Homo sapiens: one gene and its partners. The protein of the gene in region 1 interacts with the protein of each later gene in a pairwise test. Each region holds a gene or a part of one and is shown on either strand. Other genes may lie near its edges.

Region 1 (5,781 bases):
CCTTAGGAAAAATAAGAATCACCTGTTGAATTCTCAAATATAAAAATTCTCAAGTGTCACAACCAGAAATTCTAGGTTGGGGCCCAAGAATCTGCATCCCAAAAAACTTCAGACTTAATCAGTGGTTTCTAGAGCAAGTGCTGAAACCCAGATCCACTGGCATGCAGGGAGGAAGCATATGAATGTCTACACCTATTTTAAAGATGGCATCCTTTCATAAATTTATTTTGTATATGGTTGCCCATAAATTCTACTTCCTTATTTCTTTTATGCTCCAACATACTGTAAAATTGCTACTGAGCCATTCCACTGAAAATACTGGCACTGATCCAATTAATTCAAGCCCCTCCTGACTCAAACACATCCTTACCTCGAACTTTCTTTCTCAGGAGCAAGGAGAAATAACCACTCCTTAAAATTCTTCTATCCCAAGTTCTAAGGACACATTTCTCTCTCTGCTTTCTTCTCTCATCTTCCTCAACCTTCCTCCTCAGTCTGGCCAGATTCTTCCCTTCTCTACATACCCCCTGACTCCATGGGGGATCTGTCCTGACCTTTTTTTCACTTTACCCAGTCTCTGGGTGGTCTATGCCCAGGGTTTCACCAAGAGGCCACTGTCCTAAGTCCTTACCTCTAGCACTGCCTTCTCTTCCAAACATCAGAACATGAAATGCCTACTAAACTCTGTCATTTAGCTGTCCCATGAAGTCTGAGGCACTCAGCACACCCAGAACAAACCTAATTCTCACCCAGCATCAATCCGCTTGCTTCTTCTTATGTTCTCTCCCTGACACCAAATTTCTTGCTGTGACACACAGGTTATCTGTGACCTGGCCTTGCCTCTCACCACTCCCCCAGCCATGCTGAATAATTCTGCACTCCTGTATCTACCAAGTTCTTTCTCATTTCTGTGCTGTTTTTTCCTCACATGGAACAGCTTCTCCTTTCCCCTTTTTGGGCTGGCATTCCCTCCAAGTCTTAGCTTGGTATCACTTCTGGGAAGGCCCCTTGGCCCCATCTAGGAGCAGTACCTACTCTGAGTTCTCTCATCCCTTTTTTTTTTTTTTTAATAGACACGGGGTCTCTGTGTTGCACAGGCTTTCTTGAACTGCTGGCCTCAAGTAATCTGCCTCGGCCTCCCAAAGTGCTAGGATTACAGGGATGAGCCACCACACCCAGCCTCATCCCCTTCTCTTCTTGCCCTATCATACTGAGCTGTCACTGTCAACTTATGTCTCTCCTACTAGTGAGCTCCAGGAGGACCAGAATGGTCTTTCACCCTTTTATCCTCAGACCCAGCAGGATTAGCTCACAGCAGCAACAAATGTTTGCTAAACCAATGAGCAAACACATGCTAACAGTGAAAAATACTTATGACACTGTTTCAAGGAAGACTAGAATGTAAAGTTGCCTATATGCTATAACTTTATTTTAGATGTATATGGATTGAGGAAAGAACTCAAATACCTTTTTTTTTTTTTTTTTTTTTGAGATGGAGTTTTGCTCTTGTTGCCCAGGCTGGAGTGCAATGGTGCGATCTCAGCTCACAGCAACCTCCGCCTCCCGGGTTCAAACCATTCTCCTGCCTCAGCCTCCAGAGTAGCTGGGATTACAGGCATGCGCCACCATGCCTGGCTAATTTTGTATTTTTAGTAGAGACAGGGTTTCTCCATGTTGGTCAGGCTGGTTTCAAACTCTGGACCTCAGGTGGTCCGCCCGCCTCGGCCTCCCAAAGTGCTGGGATTACAGGCATGAGCCACTGCGCCTGGCCCTCCATATCTTTTATAATTCTGTTTCACTGACTCTATAATATTCTTTTTTTTGGAAACGGTGTCTCACTCTGTTGCCCAGGTTGGAGTGCAGTGGCGTGTGGCGTGATCTGGGCTCACTGCAAGCTCCGCCTCCTGGGTTCACGCCATTCTCCTGCCTCAGCCTCCCTAGTAGCTGGGACTACAGGCGCCGGTCACCACACCCGGCTAATTTTTTTGTATTTTTTTTAGTAGAGATGGGGTTTCACCGTGTTAGCCAGGATGGTCTCGATCTCCTGACCTCGTGATTCGCCTGTCTCGCCTCCCAAAGAGCTGAGATTACAGGCGTGAGCCACCACGCCCAGACTTAATATTCTAATATTCAAAATACAACATAGCTCAGGGAGCTATGGTGTTTATGGCATAATTCTGCAAGGGGTTCCCTAGGTCTCAGCTGAAATAGATAAAAATCAATTAGGCCGGGTGCGGTGGCTCACGCCTGTAATCCCAGCACTTTGGGAGGCCGAGGTGGGCGGATCACGAGGTCTAGGAGTTCAAGACCAGCCTGGCCAATATGGTGACACCCCATCTCTACTAAAAATACAAAAATTATCCGGACATGGTGGCTCGTGCCTGTAGTCCCAGCTACTTGGGAGGCTGAGGCAGAAGAATCATTTGAACCCAGGAGGCGGAGGTTGCCACTGCACTCCAGCCTGGGTGGCAGAGTGAGACTCCGTCTCAAAAAAAAAAAAAAAAAAAATCAGTCAATTATTAGCCAGGCATGGTGGTGCATGCCTGTAATCCCAGCTACTCGGGAGGCTGAGGCAGGAGAATCACTTGAACCTGGGAGGAAGGGGTTGCAGTGAGCCAAGATAATGCCACTGCACTGCAGCCTGGGTGACAGAGTGAGACTGTCTCAAACAAACAACAACAAAAAAAATCAGTCAATTCTCCTGACTCTAGGATCAAGACAGCTGTACTCACGGTACCTTATAAATGGCTGGTGCTCAACATATAGTAGTTGAATAAACAAACTTTCTTTTAATCAGTAGTTCCCAAACCTGGATGCTCATCAGAACCCCCTATGGAATTTGTAAAAATGAAGCTCCCTGAAAAGCCCACTCCATTCACATCTCTCGAATCAGAATCTCCAAGTGTTTTCTTTTACCTTGGCCAGTTAAATGTGTGAGGCTGCTTAGTGGATTGATGTTCAGAAACCGGCTTTATACAAATGTAGGTGTTCACTCAGTTTCACATGATCAACAACGTAGAGTAAAAGCACTCTGCTAGATACCGTGGGGAATAAAGATCAATCAGGGTTGGACCCTGCTAAAGGGATAAGATCAAGTGGGCAGGAGTGGATTCCTAAAACCTCCTACACCTCCTCTCCTCTACTGGCTTTTCTTCTTAATGAGCTGAGAAGACTGAAGTGGTCTGAAGATAAATGCCGCTCCACCCCGAGCATTGCTACAATAGCCTCTGTCTTCCCACCTATCGCCAGCTCCTCTTAGAGCCAAGCCTTGATTTATGCCCCGGAGCCCACTTCCTTTCACCTTCTCAAGGACATCATTTCAAGAATTCTCCCATCTTTCTCCTATATTATCATTTTTAAATTTATCCGTTGCATCATTTCCATTGGCATGCTAACATACCTTTATTTTCTCTCAGCCTTTTAAACCCTCTAGGCTCCCACCAGACATATTTGGAACAACTTGAGCACTCACAATAATCATTGCCCTAACTAATAATAAGACAACCAATACATTAAAACCTATAATTAAAGCCTATAGCGATGCTCAGAAAAGAGGAAGAATTTAATTAATTTACTTGAGATGGAGTTTCGCTCTTGTTGCTCAGGATGAAGTGCAATGGCACAACCTTGGCTCATTGCAACCTCCACCTCCTGGGTTCAAGTGATTTTAGTGCCTCAGCCTCCCAAGTAGCTAGCATTACAGGCATGCACCACCACGCCCTAATTTTGTATTTTTGGCAGAGATGGGTTTCACCATGTTGATCAGCCTGGTCTCGAACTCCCGACCTTAGGTGATCCACCCACTTCTGCCTCCCAAAGTGCTGGGATTACAGGTGTGAGCCACCGCACCCGGGACTCTTCCTTTTTTTTTTTTTAGATAAGAGTCTCACTCTGTTGCCCAGGCTGGAGTGCAACGGCGTGATCTCGGCTCACCCAACTTCCGCCTCCCAGGTTCAAGAGATTCTCCTGCCTCAGCATGCCAAATAGTTGGGATTACAGGCAGGTGCCACCACGCTCAGCTAATTTTTTTTTTTTTTTTGAGATGGAGTTTCGCTCGTTGCCCAGGCTGGAGTGTAATGGCGCAATCTTGGCTCACCGCAACCGCTGCCTCCCGGGTTCAGGTGATTTTCCTGCATGCGCCACCACGCTCAGCAAATTTTGTGTTTTTAGTAGAAACGGGGTTGCTCCATGTTGGTCAGGCTGGTCTCCAGCTCCCGACCTCAGGTGATCCGCCTGCCTCGGCCTCCCAGAGTGCTGGGATTACAGGTGTGAGCCACTATGCCTGGCTTTCTGATTTAATATTTAAAAAGCTATTAAACAGTTTGGGGACAACTGGGAAAATGTAAACCCTCACTGGATATCACATATTAGGAAATAGTTAATTCTAACAGATAGGATAACTGGGTGTCTTTTTTTTTTTTGAGATGGAGTCTTGCTCTCTTGCCAGGCTGCAGTGCAGTGGTACGATCTCGGCTCACTGAAACCTACACCTCCCAGGTTCAAGCGATTCTCCTGCCTCAGCCTCCCGAGTAGCTGGGACTACAGGCACGCAGCACCACGCCCAGTTAATTTTTCTGTTTTCAGTAGAGATGGGGTTTCACCATGTTGGCCAAGATGGTCTTGATCTCTTGAGCTTGTGATCCGCCCGCCTTGGCCTCCCAAAGTACTGGGATTACAGGCATGAGCCACCATGCCCAGCCAACCGGGTGTGGTTTTTATTTTATTTATTTTTTATTTTTTAGGACAGAGTATCGCTCTGTCGTAACACTCACTGGATAATACATAATATTAGGAAATCATTAATTTTCACAGACATAACTGGGTGTGGTTTTTATTTTTTGAGACAGAGTATCACTCTGTTGTGACACTCACTGAATAATACATAATATTAGGAAATCGCTAATTTTCATAGATAGGATAACGGCGTGGTTTTTTTTTTTTTATTTTTTGAGACAGAGTCTCGCTCTGTCGCCCAGGCTGGAGTGCAGTGGCACAATCTCGGCTCACTGCAACCTCTGCCTCCCAGGTTCAAGCACTGCTCCTGCCTCAGCCTCCCAAGTAGCTGGGACCACAGGCATGCACCACTATGCCCAGCTGATTTTTGTATTTTTAGTAGAGATGGGGTTTCTCCATGTTGGCCAGGCTGGTCTCAAACTCCTGACCTCAGGTGATCCGCCCGCTTTGGCCTCCCGAAGTGCTAGGATTACAGGTGTGAGCCACCGCGCCCAGTCTGGTTTTTATTTTTTTATTTAATTTTTAAATTTTATTCTAGTTTCAGGGGTACATGTGTAGGTTGGTTCTATAAATAAATTGCGTGTCTTGGGGCTTGGTATACATATTATCTCATCACCCAGGTAATAAAAAATACAGAAAGCTTCACAAATTTGTGCCATCCATGTGCAGAGGCCATGCTAACCTCTGTATTATTCAAATTTTAATATATGTCCTGCTGAAGTGAGTACTGGATGTGGTTTTTAAAAAGAATTTGTGTATTCTTAGGAGACGCATGTTAAAATATTTAAGGATTAAGTGTCACGATATCGGCAACCTACTGTGAAATGGTTCAGAAAAATAAAGATAAAGCTAATCTGGCCAACTGTTAACTGTTGAATGTAGGTTGCAGCTATATTAGTGTTTATTATGGTTCTTTCAACTTACTGGTAAACTTAAAATTTTTATTTTAAAAAATTTTTTAGAGATACGGTCTCACTCTATTGCCCAGGCTGTAGTACAATGGCACCATCATAGCCTATTGTAACCTCCTACTCCTAGACTCAAGTG
Region 2 (5,781 bases), on another chromosome or scaffold:
TCAGTATTTTGTATCAAGTATCACCGTTCCTTTTAATAGTGTGCTGAAAAATGAAGTTACTTTAATATTTTAGTATAATTAGTAGTTTAAGTGCCTGATACAATCAGGTTATATTTTATTTTTCTGAAAAAGTTGGGTTGTCAACTTTAAAATGTATTGGACAGCATTTAAGAAAGGGCTTGGGAGTGCTGGTAAACATGTCAACATAAAAATAACTCCTGGACTCTTGCGGAGGAGGCAGCTCTGGGAAGTAGAGCCCTCTTGTATGAGCAAGAGTGTTCTTGATTTTTCCTCTGACCGGCCAATAATGATTTTTGGCAAGTAATTTTTCGAGACCCAAAGATGAAAGGATTGGACCTAGTGGATGTGTGAAGCCTCTTGCAGCCTTAATATATTAATTCCTGGTATATAAAATAAAATCTTTTACTTATGTATAGTGAAAAACCAGTATGTTTTCCATAGCGCCTGTCTAAAATATTTGGGGGGGACCTAGAGAGTGCTGTTTAAAGAATAAAGAATTCACATGCAGTGTAAAGGTGATTTTCCTTTAAACATGCATGTGTTTTTGAGAATAGTGTGTAGAAATTGGTTTTCTGGGTTTTAAAAACATTTGACAGGCCACTGTTGGTCGTTGGGCATGTGTCCTCAGCCCTATTTTTGGCAGTGGGGACTTAGGTGTATTTTCAGCCCCAGACAGGCTGTCCTTGGGTGCCTGTCCTCTGGGCCAGGAAGGGAGCTAAGTGCCAGCGGAGAAAGGCAGGTGTGACACAGACAGCCTGTCCCTTGGAGGGCTCGTGGCAAGAGGAATGAAGCACATAGAATAGCAAGTGCAGAAGGGCTGACTTAGGTGTGTCTTCAGGGTGCATGGGGACCACAAGGGAGGGAATTGTCAGGTCCGTTTAGAAGACAAGGTTAGGAAAGACCGAAGATATTCTAGATTCTCTAAAACATCAGTTTAGACATGTTTGGGCTTTAACAACCAGTCTTCTCTATTTGGAAGAAGGGTACACCACAGTGATTTCTAAACTAATGAGTTCATCCGTTGTTTCAAAACTCAGATTTAGTTTTTAAGTTATCTTGAAGTCAAACTTAGAAAACCGATATCATTTATAATTTTAATTTTTTTGCAAAATTAAATTACAACATACTCTTAATTCTAATCAACATTCTTAGTTTGGCATTTACAGATATACATAGAAACACGATGTTTATTCTCTTGATTTATGGGAGACTTTTTTTGGTGTGTCAGTCCCCAGCTACCAAAAACTCTATCATAAAGTTTCTTTTTCTTTAATGACATTTGTCTTGAATTTAAATTGGTTGTGTAATTTTGAAACTAAAAGTTTTCCTGATTTGTGCATTGAGTCTTAGGGTTATGTTGCCCCTGTGCAGCTTGAAAACCTGTTTTTCAGGCTCCCGATGTGGTACTGAGGTAAGGATAGAATCATCAGGTTGAAATGGATCCTAGTATGTCTTGGAGAAACAGCACTTTTCGCCTCAGGAATCTGGCTGTTAGGATTCATAATTAGATATGAAATACTTTGTAAGTCTTGAAAGATTGTCCCATATTCGCATATGCTTATCAACTGGCATAAGGGACTCTTTTTTCTTTTTTGCTTTCTTTTTTTTTTTTTTTTTTTTTTTTAAGGCAGAGTCTTGTTCTTGCTCTTTCGCCAGGCTGGAGTGCAGTGGCAAGATCTCGGCTCACTGCAACCTCCGCCTCCCAGGTTCAAGCAATTCTCCTGCCTCAGCCTCCCAGGTAGCTGGGACTACAGGCGTGCACCACCACATCCAGCTAATTTTTGTATTTTTAGTAGAGACGAGGTTTCACCATATTGTCCAGGATGGTCTTGATCTCTTGACCTCATGATCCACCTGCCTCGGCCTCCCAAAGTGCTGGGAATACAGGCGTGAGCCACTGCCCCCGGCCTACTCTTTTTTCACGATCATGTCTGAAGCACAGTGCTCTCTAATTTTGCTAGTTTACCTCTTGCACATTTCCATGTCTCTGGGAAGGAGGACTGGAAAGTGTCTGGGCAGACCCTCATAGGCCACTGGCTTTGCACTTACTGTAGAGAGCTGAATGAATTTGCTGCGTGTTTTCCTGAAACATGAATGTCGGTTGGTCACTTCAGCAGCACTCAAAGGCTCTTACTGCCCTGGATTGACGAAGAGACCATGCTGGAGGGATGTTAATTTTCTTTTTCTTTGAGATGGAGTCTCCTCTCTCACCCAGGATGGAGTGCAGTGGCGCGATCTCGGCTCACTGCAACCTCTGCCTCCCAGGTTCACGCATTTCTCCCAAGTAGCTGGGACTACAGGTGCACATGCCTGGCTAATTTTTTGTATTTTTATTAGAGATGGGGTTTCACCACGTTGGCCAGGCTGGTCTCGAACTCCTGACCTCAAGTGATCCGCCCACATTGGCCTCCCAAAGTGCTGGGATTACAGGCGTGAGCCATCGCGCCCGGTCGGATGTTAATTTTTACTGTTGCTTTGTTGGCCTTGGCCTGCCTTAGGCCTTGAGTTTACTGAATCCCTAGACTGCCTGCAACCTCACAGCTCATTGGTGGTCAGGGTGTATCTGAATCTTTAGAAAAGTTCTTATTTGGAAGAAGGAACTTGATTTTTATTTGAAACGGGGCTAGATGTAGCTCCTCACAACAGAGGTTATGTGTTCATGATAGTGTGTGAGATAAAGGGAGTGGAGACTTAACCTAAAAGGAAAGGAATTGATATTTATTCAGTGCTTGCTCTGGGTCAGGCACTTTGCTCAGGTGCCTTAGTTATATTATGCCATTTAATGGGCCCTGTAACGCTCAGGTGCTTTCCATACATTGTTATTTACTCTTCCCAATAACAACAGGGCAATTGTTGTCGACATTTTAATACTTCAGCGAGGTCACTTAAAACTCACACAGCTGGTAAATAGTAAAATTGGGATTCACACTCAGAGCCCTCACTTGAATCCTGGCCTTTTCTGCTCCATACACCATACGGTTTCAAAATTTTTGGAATGTTGGCTCTGAAAGGCAAAACAAGTGATTTGCTGAAGATTCACTTTTGTAAATTGATGAGCAGTTTGCCTTACTTTTTAAAAGAAGGTTTTCTCTGGGAGGTTAACTTTTGGGTTGCTTTTTAAAAGAAGATTTTTCTCTGGGAGATGAATTTAGCCAGCTTTAATTTAACCTAGCCAGAGACAGAAGATCTTTGTTAGTTTGTGTACAGTCACTTGCTTTTCTTGGCCAATTCTGTATTGTTCTCCAGTGCCAAAACATGACCTCCAGCTGTTCTCATGGGTGATTGGCCTGCTAAGTTATTGTTGAATTCACCTAATGTATGAATTCGACTGCCATCGGCATTGGGCTTTATGTGTATCTATCGGAAATTAACACTTGAGATTTATTAAAGAAAGAAGAGTGATGACAGGGAACATGCTGCTTTACAAGCACGGATTTTAGAGTAGTTTCAAATTGTAGCTCCACCATTTACTGGGCAAAGTGACCTCTGGCAGGTTACTAAGTCTCTATTGAGCTCAGTTGTTCTTTGTGTCAAAAAAAGGGTCAAACTCTGTAATATATTTGAAGAGATTTATTCTGAGCCAAACATGAGTGACCAGTGGCCCATGACACAGCCCTTAGGAGATCCTGAGAAGATGGGCCTAAGGTGATCGAGGTACAGCTTGCTTTTACACATTTTAGGGAGACATAAGACGTCAATCAGTACATGTAAGGTATACAGTGGTTCTGTCTAGAAAGGAGAGACAACTGGAAGTGGAGGCAGCTTCCAGGTCACAGGCAGATTTAAAGATTTTCTTTCTTTTTCTTTCTTTTTTTTTTTTTTTTTTTGAGACAGATTCTCTGTTGCCCAGGCTGGGGGTGCAGTGGTGTGATCTCTCGGCTCACTGCAGCCTCTGCCTCCCGGGTTCAAGTGATTCTCTTGCCTCAGCCTTTTGAGTAGCTGGGATTACAGGTGAGGACCACCACACCCAGCTAATTTTTTTGTATTTTTAGTAGAGACTGGCTTTCCTCATGTTGGCCAGGCCGGTCTCGAACTCCTGGCCTCATGTGATCTGCCCACCTCGGCTTCTCAAAGTGCTGGGATTACAGGTTTGAGCCACCACCCCCAGCCTAAAGATTTTCTAATTGGCAGTTGGTTCAAAGAGTTAAAGACCTGGAATCAACAAAAAGGAATGTCTGGGTTAAGATAAGGAGCTGTGGAAACCAAGGTTTTATCATACAGATGAAACCTTCAGGTAGCCGGCTTCAGGGGGAGTTGATTGTAAATGTTGCTTATCAGACTTAAAAGAGTCTGTTCTATCAGTCTTAAGGTCTTTGTTGATGTTAATGCTGGTCAGCTGTGCCTGAATTCCAACCCTTCGGAGAGTATAATTATGTCTGACTCCCCCTTCCTTTCATATCCTGAACTAGTTTTTCAGGTTAACCTTGGAATGCCCTTGGCCGAGAGAAGTGGTCCCTTCAGATGGTTGGGGGGCTTAGAATTTTATTTTTGCTTTACATTAATGTAAAGGGAGAATTGCAAATTGTAGTTTGGTGTTGGAATTCACACTGTGAGTAAGGCTCAGACTCCCATTTCCTCTATGTAGAATAGAAACATTTATTGGGTGCATACTATGTATTATACATATGGTGATGATTGTTAGGATGTAGGGAAAAAAGAGACCCTGTCTGAGTGCCTAGTGCAGTGGGTAATACTGTTGCAGGAGTTTTTCTCAACCCATTTGTAAAACTTGCGATGGGGGTGCCCCATTCAGCCCGCCATGCTCAACCTCTTGCGGGCAGGAGTGTGTGGGCAAGTGAGTACAGGATCCAGCCAGCCACTTTGAGCACCGGCAGGAGCATGCTGTGTGCAGGCCCCACAGTGGTGCCCAGGTGGTGGTGTCTGTGACCCTAAAGCCCCAGAGGGCATGCTACAGTGCTCTCTTGGCTCCACCATCCATGGACACCGGTGTGTCATCAGCTCAGTGGGCCCTTTGCCTCACTGTGTGGGGCAGCTGCCCTCCAGTAGCGAGGGCAAAGGGTCAGTGTGATAACCTTTTTTGGGTACCCAAAGTTGGTGGGTCCCAAGCTCTTGTCCACTGTCCAAGAAGAATTGGGTCACATGGACACCTGAAGGATGGTGGAGGCAGATAATTTTATTTAGCAATGAAAGTGGCTCTCAGCAGAGAGGGTAGCTGAAGACGGGACAGGACGGGCAGATAATCTTCCCTAAAGTCTGGCCATCTACACTTGGCTCTTCTCCAAAGCTAAGCCATCTCTCCTCCAAAGTCCAGCTGTCTGTCTGCCATCCAAGTACTAACCAGGCCTGACCCTGCTTAGCTTCAAAGATCAGGCGAGATTGGGTGTGTTCAGGGTGATATGACAGTAGACTCAGCTGTCCTCTGAAGTCTCCAGTTGATATGATTTGGCTGTGTCCCCACCCAAATCTTGTATTGAGTTCCCACATGTTGTGGGAAGGACCCAGTGGGAGGGAATTGAATAATGGGGGGGCAGGTCTTTGCCATGCTGTTCTCATAATAGTGATTAAGTCTCACAAGATCTGATGGTTATTATAAGGGAGAGTTTTCTTGCATGAGCTCTCTTTGCCTGCTGCCATCCATGTAAGACATGTCTTGCTCCTCCTTGCCCTCTGCCATGATTGTGAGGCTTCCCCAGCCACGTGGAACTCTTAAGTCCAATTAAACCTCTTTCTTTTGTAAGTTGCCCAGTCTCATGTACGTCTTTATAAGCAGCGTAAAAATGGACTAATACATCAGTCAAG
Region 3 (5,781 bases), on another chromosome or scaffold:
ACTCTAACTTGATTGTTTACTTGTAGAAATAATACTGGCTCAGCCGGGTGCAGTGGTTCATGCCTGTAATCGCGGCACTTTGGGAGGCCAAGGTGGGTGGATCCCTTGTGGTCAGGAGTTCGAGACCAGCCTGGCCAATATGGCGAAACCCCCGTCTCTTCTAAAAATACAAAAATTAGCTGGGTGTGGTGGCTCGCACCTGTAATCCCAGCTACTCGGAAGGCTGAGGCAGGAGAACCACTTGAACCAGGGAGGCAGAGGTTGCAGTGAGCTAAGATCGTGCCACTGCATTCCAGCTTGGGCGATGGAGCAAGACTGTCTCAAAAAAAAAAAAAAAATACTGACAGTCATTGGCTTTAGGATATTGAATATAAGTCATGCCAGCTGACCTTTAGAATGGAGCTTAGGTCCTCATTCCCCTCATCAGAACTTCTAGGAAAGGAGTGATCGAGCAGAGTTCCTTTATGTTGAGCAGATGCAGAAGTGTAAGAAAGGAATAAGCTACTGGTATCCAGGATTATCTAGCTCATCTTTCCAGTGGAGCTGAGCCTCTGTCCCTTAAAGCAGTGCTGAACGAATCTTTGTTGGAGTCTGAGTATATTTTTCTCTGCTATTGTTGTTAAGTGGTTGGTGGTTAAAAAACAGGTGAAATAGCTTCTTTAGCCCTCTGTCTGGGCACACCATTTATTAAATAGGTGTCCACAGGCTGATTTGGGAACCTAACTACTCATCCCACCTTTGTGTCTTCTTAGCAGTACTACTGGCCACTCCTTCCTTCTTGAAACTATTTCTTCCCTAGGCTCCCTGACACCATACTCTTCTGGCCTTTCTCTTACCTTGCTGGCCACTCCTTAACCTCCTTTTCTGCTCAGCCTCTCAAATGGTGGCATACCTGGCATTAGTTCTGAAACGTTTTCTCCATCTGAACTGTCTCTAAGTGTTCTTGTTGAGTCCCGTGACTTGGAAGTTTAAATACCATCTATACCTGATAAATGTCTATCTCCAGCTCTGACCTCTGCCTTGGCTTCAGGTTCCTATCCAGCAGCCTACCTGGTATCTCCAGCTTGATTTTCAGTAGTCATTTCATGCTTATCATGCTCCAAACAGATTTATTTATTCTCTCCAACCTGTCTTCCAGCCCCTCAACTTGTTTCTCTCTAAATAAACTGAGTTGAACAATCTGCTCAGCTATTCCAGCCCAAATCATGCTTTGTTGTTCCTCCATCAACTCATATTCAGTTGCCCCACAGATCCTACCAGTTTTGCATCCAACATAAATCCCAAATCTGTCCACTCCATTACTACCACCTTAGCCCAAGCTGTCATCTTAACAGCTTCCACTATTTTTTCTTTTTCTTTCTTTTTTTTTTTTTTTTTTTGAGACAGAGTCTGTCTTTGTGGCCCAGGGTAGAGTGCAGTAGTGCAATCTTGGCTCATTGCAACCTCTGCCTCCCAGGTTCAAGTGATTCTTGTGCCTCTCAGCCTCCTGAGTAGCTAGACTTACAGGTGCATGCCACCACATGTGGCTAATTTTTGTATTTTTAGTAGAGACGGGGTTTTGCCATGTTGGCCAGGCTGGTCTCGAACTCCTGACCTCAAGTGATCCACCTGCCTTGGCCTCCCACGGCGCCAGAATTACAGGCATGAGGTACCATGCCCGGCCTTCCCCAAGGAATTTAAACACCAAAGTGCTGGGATTACAGGTGTGAGCCACCATGCCCAGCCAATTTGCCCTTTCTTCATACCCTTCTTTCTGTGTCTATTTACGCAGGCAAATAAAACATAGTCGAATCAGACACTACACTGCTGGAAATCCTCCATGGACTACCCATTTCATTTAATATAATTCCAAATTCTTAACCAGTACCCAAAAGGCTTCTTGATCACTGCATGCCATGAGCCATTTCACTGCTCCAGGCACCCTGGTATTTTTTGTCTGTACCTTGACTATATCTTTTGTCTTGGGACCTTTATGTTTTCTCTGCCTAGTACATTGTTCTATCCTCTCTGTTTAAACCTTGAGCTCTAAGCTTAAGTTTTAAGCCTAGATGTCACTTTGTTAGCAAGACTGAGATTTCCTATCCCTTCAGTCCAAAGTAGAGTCTCTGTATTACTTTCTGTTATGTTGCCCTGTTTATTTTAAATGTAAGGTGGGGGAAAAGGAGGTTGAAGGGGTGTTGATGCTTCACAACAGGTCCTTGCCTGCTCAGTCATATGTAGAAATATGTATCACAATCTCAGATGTCTTTTTTGTTTACTGTCTGCTGCCTCCATTGAGATATACACTGTGAGAGCAAGAAGTTCGTCTGCCCTAAGCACCATTGGATCCGTACAGATAGTAGGCACTGCCTGGCACACAGGGCTAGTAGCACTTCATAAATACTTATGCACTGACTGAATGGATTCATTGATTTATTATATTGTTTCTGAGAAAAAATAAGTTCTGGATTTCAGGTAATCAGTGTTAAGTAATTTGTAAAGTGACCTATGGCTATTTGTTAGGCAAGGTATATTTTTTGGTTTTTTTTGGCCCATGTTGAATTTAAATTCATTTAAAAATAAGCAGTTTTCTTTGTTTAGAAGTCTATGTCAAGTCTATGTCAATAACTACCAGATACTTACTAATTTTCTTTTCTTTTTTCTTTTTGAGATGGAGTCTTGCTCTGTCGCCCAGGCTGGAGTGCAGCAGCGCAATCTTGGCTCACGGCAAGCTCTGCCTCCTCGGTTCACGCCATTCTCCTGCCTCAGCCTCCCGAGTAGCTGGGACTACAGGCACCCGCCACCACACCCGGCTAATTTTTTTTTTGTATTTTTAGTAGAGATGGGGTTTCACCATTTTAGTCAGGATAGTCTCAATCTCCTGACCTCATGAGCCACCTGCCTCAGCCTCCCAAAGTGCTGGGATTACAGGTGTGAGCCACCACGCCCGGCCAACTAATTTTCTTAATGATTCTTCAAAGTAGGCATTATTACTCACAAATGAGAAAGTGGAGATTTGAGAAGATAAATCATTTCCCCAAGGTCACACAGATGGTTGTAGTAAAGCTACGCTTGATTCCAAGTATATAGTTACTTTTTTTCATATCCTGGATTTAGTTATTTCTCAGAGGAGCATGTGATTCAGGAAATGGCAGTGTTTTATATGAGAGGCAGCCTGGTGATGTGGAAAAACCACAAGTTTGGGGGTGAGAGAGACCTTTGTTTGAAATCTGGTTTTTGCCACAGCTGTGTGATCTTGTTTGAATCACCTTCCAGGGTTTAGTTTTCCGTTTCACATGAGAAGTAGAAGTGTACACATGCCTGGCACATTAGAGGCGTTCAGGATATGGAAGCTGCTGTTGTCATGGTTGATAGTGGTCTTTCTGTTTTCCTAAAAGTATATGTGGAGAATTGAAAACTAATAACTACTATGTTTGGTTTCACAGATAGAAGAAGTCAGAGATGCCATGGAAAATGAAATGAGAACCCAGCTTCGCCGACAGGCAGCTGCCCACACTGATCACTTGCGAGATGTCCTTAGGGTACAAGAACAGGAATTGAAGTCTGAATTTGAGCAGGTGAGGACCTGGACTCCCTTCAGCCACACCCCTCTTCCTGACAGGATTAAGAGACTCTCCTTTCCTTTTAATGTACTCTGAGGATGTCGAAGATTTGGAAATCTCCTTGTATGTCTACAAAACTGCTTCTTTTTACATAATGGTGTACCTGTGTGTTCATGATCAGATGTGTTTTTAAAATATATATTCTAGTCATTTGGAATCTTCAGAGCTTTAAGGAGAGTTGGTAAAGGGGATTTCAGGAATGCAGACAGTAATATTTGACATGTGTATCTTCCTCCTATAGATGGCATGGTACTGCTTAGATTTTTATAACTGAGGTAATTTCCCAGAGAAGTTTTGAAATCCCAGTAAATTATCAGGATGCCTGTAATCATAGTTTCTATTCAAGAAATCATTTACAGTAATATTAACTTGTTACTTTGTCTTGCAAGAAGATATTGAGGTTTTCTAAGTAAAATCTTCCAGAGAATCGCGATGTATGTCAGTATGAAAAGGTATTTTAAATTCTATTTGGATATTTTTCTGAGAAAAATTAATGTATAAGCTCTTAAATACAAGATATTAGAATATAATTTAATCTAATTATTATGTTTAGGTTTGCAGTACAGATAATTTACTTTCTAAAGCTGACAATTTGTGGCTGAGCACAGTGGCTAACACCTATAATCCCAGCAATTTGGGAGGCTGAGGCGGGTGGATCGCTTGAGGACAAGAGTTCAAGACCAGCCTGCCCAACATGGCGAAACCCTGTCTCTATTAAAAATACAAAAATTACCTGGGCATGGTGGTGCATGCATGTAATCCCAGCCACTCCGGAGGCTGAGGCATGAGAATCGTTTGAATCTGGGAGGTGGAGGTTGCAGTGAGCTGAGGTTGTGCCACTGCACTCCAGCCTGGATGACAGAGCAAGATTCTGTCTCAAAAATAAAATACAGTTGGCAGTTTGTTTCTGACTTTAACAGCCTTCTCTCTTCTCTTGGTATGCCTCCTCTAATATTAGGTTCCATCAGTAAACCTGTAAAGAATTATATACATCGGCCGGGCACGGTGGCTCACGCCTGTAATCCCAGCACTTTGGGAGGCCGAGGTGGGCGGATCACGAGGTTAAGAGATCGAGACCATCCTGGCCAACATGGTGAAACCCATCTCTACTAAAAATACAATAATTGGCATGGTGATGCATGCCTGTAATCCCAGCTACTTGGGAGGCTGAGGCAGGAGAATCACTTGAATCTGGGAGGCGGAGGTTGCAGTGAGCCAAGATTGTGCCACTGCACTCCAACCTGGCAATAAAGCAAGATTCCATCTCAAAAAAAAAAAAAATATATTATATACATCAAATATGAGTCAGGACATTTTTGAAACTTTACACAAAATGTAGGAATTTCGTGACAACTCTAAGGCCCTCTTTGCTTCAGCAAGTAGTTGCTGGAAGATTACACAGTTACATGACATGCATTGAGTATCACTTTTTTCTGGAACTATTTCTGTTTTATTTCAGAACCTGTCTGAGAAACTCTCTGAACAAGAATTACAATTTCGTCGTCTCAGTCAAGAGCAAGTTGACAACTTTACTCTGGATATAAATACTGCCTATGCCAGACTCAGAGGAATCGAACAGGCTGTTCAGAGTAAGCATAAGCTATGTTTATCTTACAGATAATTTTCCTCAGCATAATTTATCAAAATAATTTTATAGGGAAAATGGGGTACATGTACTGACATCAGGACATAAAAATACTAATCACTCTACTTAATTGCAGTTTTTGCCATTAAAAGTAATGGCAAAATCTATATAACTAGAAATTTATACCTTGTATGACAAACACAAAATCACCATTTACAAGGCTATTTACCCAGTATCCTTTGGCTATGTCGCATGTGCCTGGGTGGTAAGGGCTAGGGGTCAGTGTGGTCCCATGCTTGCCTTCCACAGACTTGGTGGGTTATCTGGAGGTGGTGATTTGCCGAGTCCAACTACCAAATGGACAGTATTTATGCTGAGGCCTCCATGTGCCACATTGAAAGAGAAATGTCATGACAATGAGGGTATTAATAAAATGGGTTTTTTTAGGATGTTATGGAATCTTTTTTTGTCACATAACAATAAAAATAAATTCAATACTCATGGAATTTCAAGATCCAGTAGTCTGTTAAGTTCGTTTGAAGTCTCCCATTTCTTTTTTTTTTTTTTTTTTTTTTTTGAGACAGAGTCTTGCTC
Region 4 (5,781 bases), on another chromosome or scaffold:
GGTTTTTTTTTTTTTTTTTTTTTTTTTGAGACAAGATCTTGCTGTCACCCAGGATGGAGTGCAGTGGCATGATCATGGCTCACTGCAGCCTTGACCTCCCAGGCTCCCACCTCAGCCTCCCAAGTAGCTGGGACCACAGGCACGTGCCACCATGCCCAGCTAATTTTTATTTTGGTAGAGACAAGGTTTCACCATGTTGCCTAGGTAGGTTTCAAACTCCTGGACTCAAGTGATCCTCCTGCCTCGGCCTTCCACAGTGTTGGGATTACAGGAATAAGCCACTGTGCCCGGCCCTTTTTCTCTTCTGTAACAGAGTTTATTACTGCCTAGCTAGCAGGTTATTTGGCCCTCACATGTGTTGAGGCAAACTCTATACTATATTCTTACTCTCCAGAGTTCCAAAATCCTTTATTTTTAAAGAAAAATAAACAAACATACTTCATTCTGCCCAGTATATTCTCTTGATCTGTACAAGCTACGATTTTAATTCTCTTTGGAGAGGAGGCATCTGTTAAGTTCGAATGGGGGATATTTCCTCATAACGGTCATGGCTGAGAGGCCAGGACAATTATCACTTAACGAAGGTCCTTTGGTGCTCCCTGTGCATCAGCTTCATTCACTGGGGTCAGGTTCTTAAGGGGTCTCTTCCACCAGTGTGCTAGGGAAGGGCTGCCATCACCTCTGTTTAACACATAGCTACTTTCTTAAACACAATAAGCTTAAAAAGATGACTATGGATTTACAATGGAGGGCACTATAAGCCTCTCATACTTAAAACAGATCAATATAAAACAAGTAAACATGAAAACACCAAAACACAGCAGCAAAAAGATTTAGCAATCAATGTTTCTTTCTGCAAAATGCAAAATTAACTTATTTAGCAGTAGAGGACTAAAAAGGAAATCAGTTATACCAAGGGGAGACACGTGCCCTTGGTACTATGACCACTAGGACAGCATTCATATTACACCACAGTGACTGCTTTCAAAGCTCAAATGATTGTCAAGCCACTTCTCAAATGACAGATAATTTCTGTTGTTCTTTTTTATACAAAATGTTAAGACAACAGGCTTGAATATACAGCCTAAGCACCAATTATGATAAATGCATATTGGTAAAATGTGACTTCTGGCTTTAAAAGACATTATTGACCTCCCTGGGGCTAAAGATTGCACCCATGTGAGTAATACACTGCTAAAGAATAATTCATTTTTTAAGATCTATAGAGGTTCTCCACTAGGCACAATTCATTGCTGAAGTTGGATCATGCAACAGTTTTACAAGAGAAGTAGGAAAACATACGTATACTGAATATAGTGCATATCACCATGAAGACTTTCAGCATGTAAGATTAAGACAGGACAGTGCTTTAAAACACTTGCATGGATTTGGGTTTGCCTATTCAAATGAAAGGGAATTCATTGAGATTTATATGGAAAAATTCCATGTTGGGGTTAATGGCCCACCACTCTGAACTGAGTCCAGTAAGAGCTTGAGGAATTTGGCTTTGTTAGTACAGACCTTCTCCTTGCACTCCTCTTCTCAGTATTCAACAAGCTGTCTTTGTTTAAAAATATGCAAAATGCACTGATTTTTGGAGTGGTTCATGTGACTTTTACTGCTCATTTTGTTAAAAATTCTGTCTTAAGTTAGAAGGTATTTTTTGCTTTCTTTTCAACATCTGAAGAACAATGCATCACACTTGGGAAAAAAACATTTCTTCACCTTATAATTGGTAATGTGCTACAATTACCTTTTAATTAAGATCTGAGCCTTTTACAAGTAGATTTTCTTCACATACTTAAAATAGATCGAAACTCTGTCTCAAAAAAAAAAAAAAAGATAATGAAGACTAAATGTTGATTCTGTATTAACAAATGGAGGCAGAGGAGAGTAAATGACTCTAGGGCAGACTTGCCAAACCCTAGCTTGGAGGGAGTCCCATATTGCCGTTCATGCAGAAAGCAGACACTATCATTAGTCTGAGGACTAACCCTAAAGGGGCCACACCCATTAAAGCTGAGGAGTGTCCAAATACCAGGGCAACAAAACGTCATGGCAAATAGTCTTCTCCAGATATGAAAACCCAAGACTGTGGTCTTCACATCTTTAATCCCCCAAATTCTTAAGTTGGTGTTCTGAGTCAGGACTCTATTTCAAAATAGGGTCTCACATCCAAGGAAATATGTCCTTCTGTAGAGCAGTTCTTACTTGACTATGCTTCAGGGAAAAGAGCAGCAGCATCTATAAACATACATGTATGTGTGTGAGAGTGTGTGTAATTTAAAAGGGGATCCAGAGCCCCTTCTTGATTATAAATTGGAAGTAACAATAGGCCAAACTGTCTCCTTAAATAAAACCACTGATACTAAAAAATTAAAAGATTAAACAGATCACAAAAAAATCAGACAGGTGGTGGAGAAGACCCCAAAGAGGAGTTACAAATTTAACACATTTGGGAAAGTAAAGATGACTTTAAAACAAACTAAAGATAAATCACAAACCCAAACTCAGCAGCCTAAGGGAACCTTCATAGGGGGAAACTAGGAGGCTCCAGCACTGTCAGGTCACACTCCTTTCTAGACTATGCAACCCTCTAGGGTTTCTTCCAGGGCTGTTGCATTGGCAGCAAAGCGGGACAGGCAGCAGTAGGCATGTGCTTTTTTTAAGTTTTTTTTTTTCTCTGCAAAGGGGCAATTATTCCTGGATAAGGCAAGATAATTGTGGTCACAAGAGAAGCAGCCAAATGCAGATCTGTTGAGCTAACAGGGGGAGTGTCTCAGTCAGTCTTTCCCAGCTTTGCAATCAGCTCATCACAGATTTTTGTCAGTTCTTCAATTTCTTGGTTCTGAAAGACAAATGACATAATTATGCAGGCCACTTTGTATTCTGAAATAAAGGCAAATAGAGTTAACTAGTCCCAAGTCTGGATCTACCCTACCCTAGACATCCTAATTCAGTGATTTTTAACTTTTCTACATCAGAGATGCTTTAAAGAAAAAAAGGCTACACACCTCAAAAAATGTACTCATAAAATCATGCTTAAATTGAGTAAAGGGTGAGGACAGTCACCAGCCCTCTGAAACTTGTCCATGAATCTCTTAGTTCCCCAATTTTCTTGTTATCAGAGGAATTATCTGGGGTACTTGTCAAAAACATAAGTATCTGGGTCTCACTCAATCCATTAGCATATCTAGGGATGCTGGAGTCTGAATCTCCCAGGGAGCACCGTTCTAGGGGCTAACAGACCCTGTGATAAAAACTCCTGCTCTTGATGAATGGATGGCACAGGTATGAGTACATAATTGGAAATGCAGTAAAGAAAATACACCGGAGACATATAAAAACGGAAAGCTAAAAATTGCTTAGTGAGAAACAGGGATTGTTGCTAGTCCTGGTTTTCATTTATCTATAGCAGTTTCTCAAAGCAGCCCTGCTGATGTTTTAGGATGGGTAAATGTGTTGTCAGAGGCTGTCCTGTGCATTGTAGGATGTTTAACAGCATCCCTGGCTTCCTGCACTAGATACCAGCAGCATCTCCCAGTGGTGACAACCAAACAAATATATCTCCAGACATTACCTAACACCTAACATCCCCTGGAGGGCAAAACTGCCCCCAACTGCAAACCACTGATCTAAAGCAATGAAGGGGGAAGATGGCTTCATATTAATATATTGCATAAAAAACAAAGAAAGAAAGAAAGGCAGTCTCATGACCCCAACTAGGAAGCTGTTCTGAACTTCAGTTAAAATGCAACTTCCTCTCTGCACCCTGCCTGTGGATGATTTCCACATGATGTGCTTGAAAATTTAATGGTTTGACTTGTTTGTTTCCACCTGGATCAGTTCAGAAAGGAGCTGGACTGAAATGTCTGAGTAGAAAGCCAAGGCCTCTTTCACCCAGATCTGTCATTAAGTGAGTCACTGCTGAGGAGGAAAACCAAACGTCTCTGTGGCCACCCAGATCAGGTCCCTTTCTGTACCTTCTGCTGCAGGGCCCTTTCCAGGGACTCCACCTTCATCTGCTCTTTGCGGAGTCCAGCATGGAGAGCTGCACTCTCAGCCTTTGCTTTTGTTCGAACCTGAGCAATCTCTTCATTGGCTCTGTTTATGGTGTTTGGGTGTAATAAAGAGACAAAAAGCACATGATTAGCCACTAGTCAAAGCCAGTCAGGATACTAACCACTGACATCTGTGAGGCACAGGCCTCAAAGAATTGACTGCATGAGAGAAAAAAAACAAAAATCGGTGACCTAAATAATTCCATTTTAATTTATAAAAATTCAATTTACAGACAACTTCAAAATTTGTATCTCACTAGCAAATGGTTTCTATAACAGTCTTAGATTTTTTTTTTTTTTTTAGACCAGTACAAAAGCAGACTGCATAATTTTGGAGACGATCACAGCTAGAGTTGGGATACTAACCACTGACATCTGTGAGACACGGGCCTACAGGGAATGAGTTTATTAATGAGATGTGAAAGGCATTCTTTTTTTTTTTTTTTTTTTTTTTTTTTGAGATGGAGTCTCGCTCTGTCACCCAGGCTGGAGTACAGTGGCGCAGTCTCGGCTCACTGCAAGCTCCGCCTCCCGGGTTCACGCCATTCTCCTGCCTCAGCCTCTCCGAGTAGCTGGGACTACAGGCGCCCGCCACCACGCCCGGCTAATTTTTTTTTTTATTTTTAGTAGAGACGGGGTTTCACCGTGGTCTCGATCTCCTGACCTCGTGATCCACCCGCCTCGGCCTCCCAAAGTGCTGGGATTACAAGCGTGAGCCACCGCGCCCGGCCTGAAAGGCATTCTTAAAAACCATAAATGTCAGTTGATGAACAGCCATTAAACTGATGAAAGGATGCTAAAGCCTCATTAGCAATCAGAGGCATGTAAATTAAAATGATAAGCTTTGAAAATTGATTGAATTGGCAAAAATTAACAAGGACAGTCCTGTGTGGGCCGAGATACAAGGAGACAGGCAGGCTCATGTGCCAATGGGCGGCTGAAAACTGGCGCTGCCTTGTGGCGGGCAATGTGGTAGTCACCAGGGCAATTTAAAGTGTACATGCCCTCCAACGCAGCAATGCCACTTTCAGTTATGTATTCACAGAAATACTCCCACCTGGCATAACAGTGAGTGCACAGGATGTTCGCTGTAGTGTTACCTTCAATGTAAAAAAGTTTGTAACTAAGTGCCCATCAATAAAGAAATGCTATAGTTCCACGACCTAATAAAAAGAATTAGATTCAGCTATATGTTCTGACATGAAAAAATGGTCAGGATATGCTATTAAGGGAAAAAGGAAATTTGTCTAATGTGATTCCAATATTGTAAATATTTTTTATAGTTCAAAATCATAGTATTTATAAAGACACAAAGAAACGACTAGAGGGATATACAATAAACCTACGTATAATATATAGAGGCATCTGTAAAACCTATGGAGAAGAATGCATAAGAAATCTAATACAGTACTATGGGAGTGGGAAGGGGACAGGGGAACTTCTGCTTCTACAGATAGAAATTTAGGCAGCAAAATGTACAAGCATGTATTACCTTTTAGTTAAAAAGTCAAGTTGGGAGGCCAGGCTCAGTGGTTCATGCCTGTAATCCTGCACTTTGGGAGACCGAGGCGGGCGGATCACTTGAGGTCAGAAGTTCGAGACCAGCCTGCCCAACATGGCGAAACCCCGTCTCTACTAAAAATACAAAAATTAGCTGGGCATGGTGGCGGGTGCCTGTAATCCCAGCTGCTCGGAAGGCTGAAGCAGGAGAGTCACTTGA

What was found.
Region 2: the proteins of STX5 (region 1) and MTUS1 interact in binary tests that used the Homo sapiens proteins (3 or more experiments, as listed by UniProt).
Region 3: the proteins of STX5 (region 1) and IMMT interact in a two-hybrid assay, tested with the Homo sapiens proteins (one large-scale study listed by BioGRID and IntAct).
Region 4: the proteins of STX5 (region 1) and TACC1 interact in binary tests that used the Homo sapiens proteins (3 or more experiments, as listed by UniProt).

What each region holds. Positions count from the first base shown.
Region 1 is NC_000011.10:62,810,606-62,816,386, forward strand, and holds part of STX5 (syntaxin-5), read right to left. Parts: intron 1-5,781. UniProt on the Homo sapiens protein: Mediates endoplasmic reticulum to Golgi transport.
Region 2 is NC_000008.11:17,747,727-17,753,507, reverse strand, and holds part of MTUS1 (microtubule-associated tumor suppressor 1), read left to right. Parts: intron 1-5,781. UniProt on the Homo sapiens protein: Cooperates with AGTR2 to inhibit ERK2 activation and cell proliferation. May be required for AGTR2 cell surface expression. Together with PTPN6, induces UBE2V2 expression upon angiotensin-II stimulation.
Region 3 is NC_000002.12:86,145,478-86,151,258, reverse strand, and holds part of IMMT (MICOS complex subunit MIC60), read left to right. Parts: intron 1-3,425; coding exon 3,426-3,557; intron 3,558-5,061; coding exon 5,062-5,191; coding exon of another isoform or gene 5,192-5,223; exon of another isoform or gene 5,224-5,699; intron 5,700-5,771; coding exon of another isoform or gene 5,772-5,781. UniProt on the Homo sapiens protein: Component of the MICOS complex, a large protein complex of the mitochondrial inner membrane that plays crucial roles in the maintenance of crista junctions, inner membrane architecture, and formation of contact sites to the outer membrane.
Region 4 is NC_000008.11:38,845,022-38,850,802, reverse strand, and holds part of TACC1 (transforming acidic coiled-coil-containing protein 1), read right to left. Parts: intron 4,105-5,781; coding exon 3,984-4,104; intron 2,849-3,983; coding exon 2,780-2,848; 3' UTR 1-2,779. UniProt on the Homo sapiens protein: Involved in transcription regulation induced by nuclear receptors, including in T3 thyroid hormone and all-trans retinoic acid pathways. Might promote the nuclear localization of the receptors.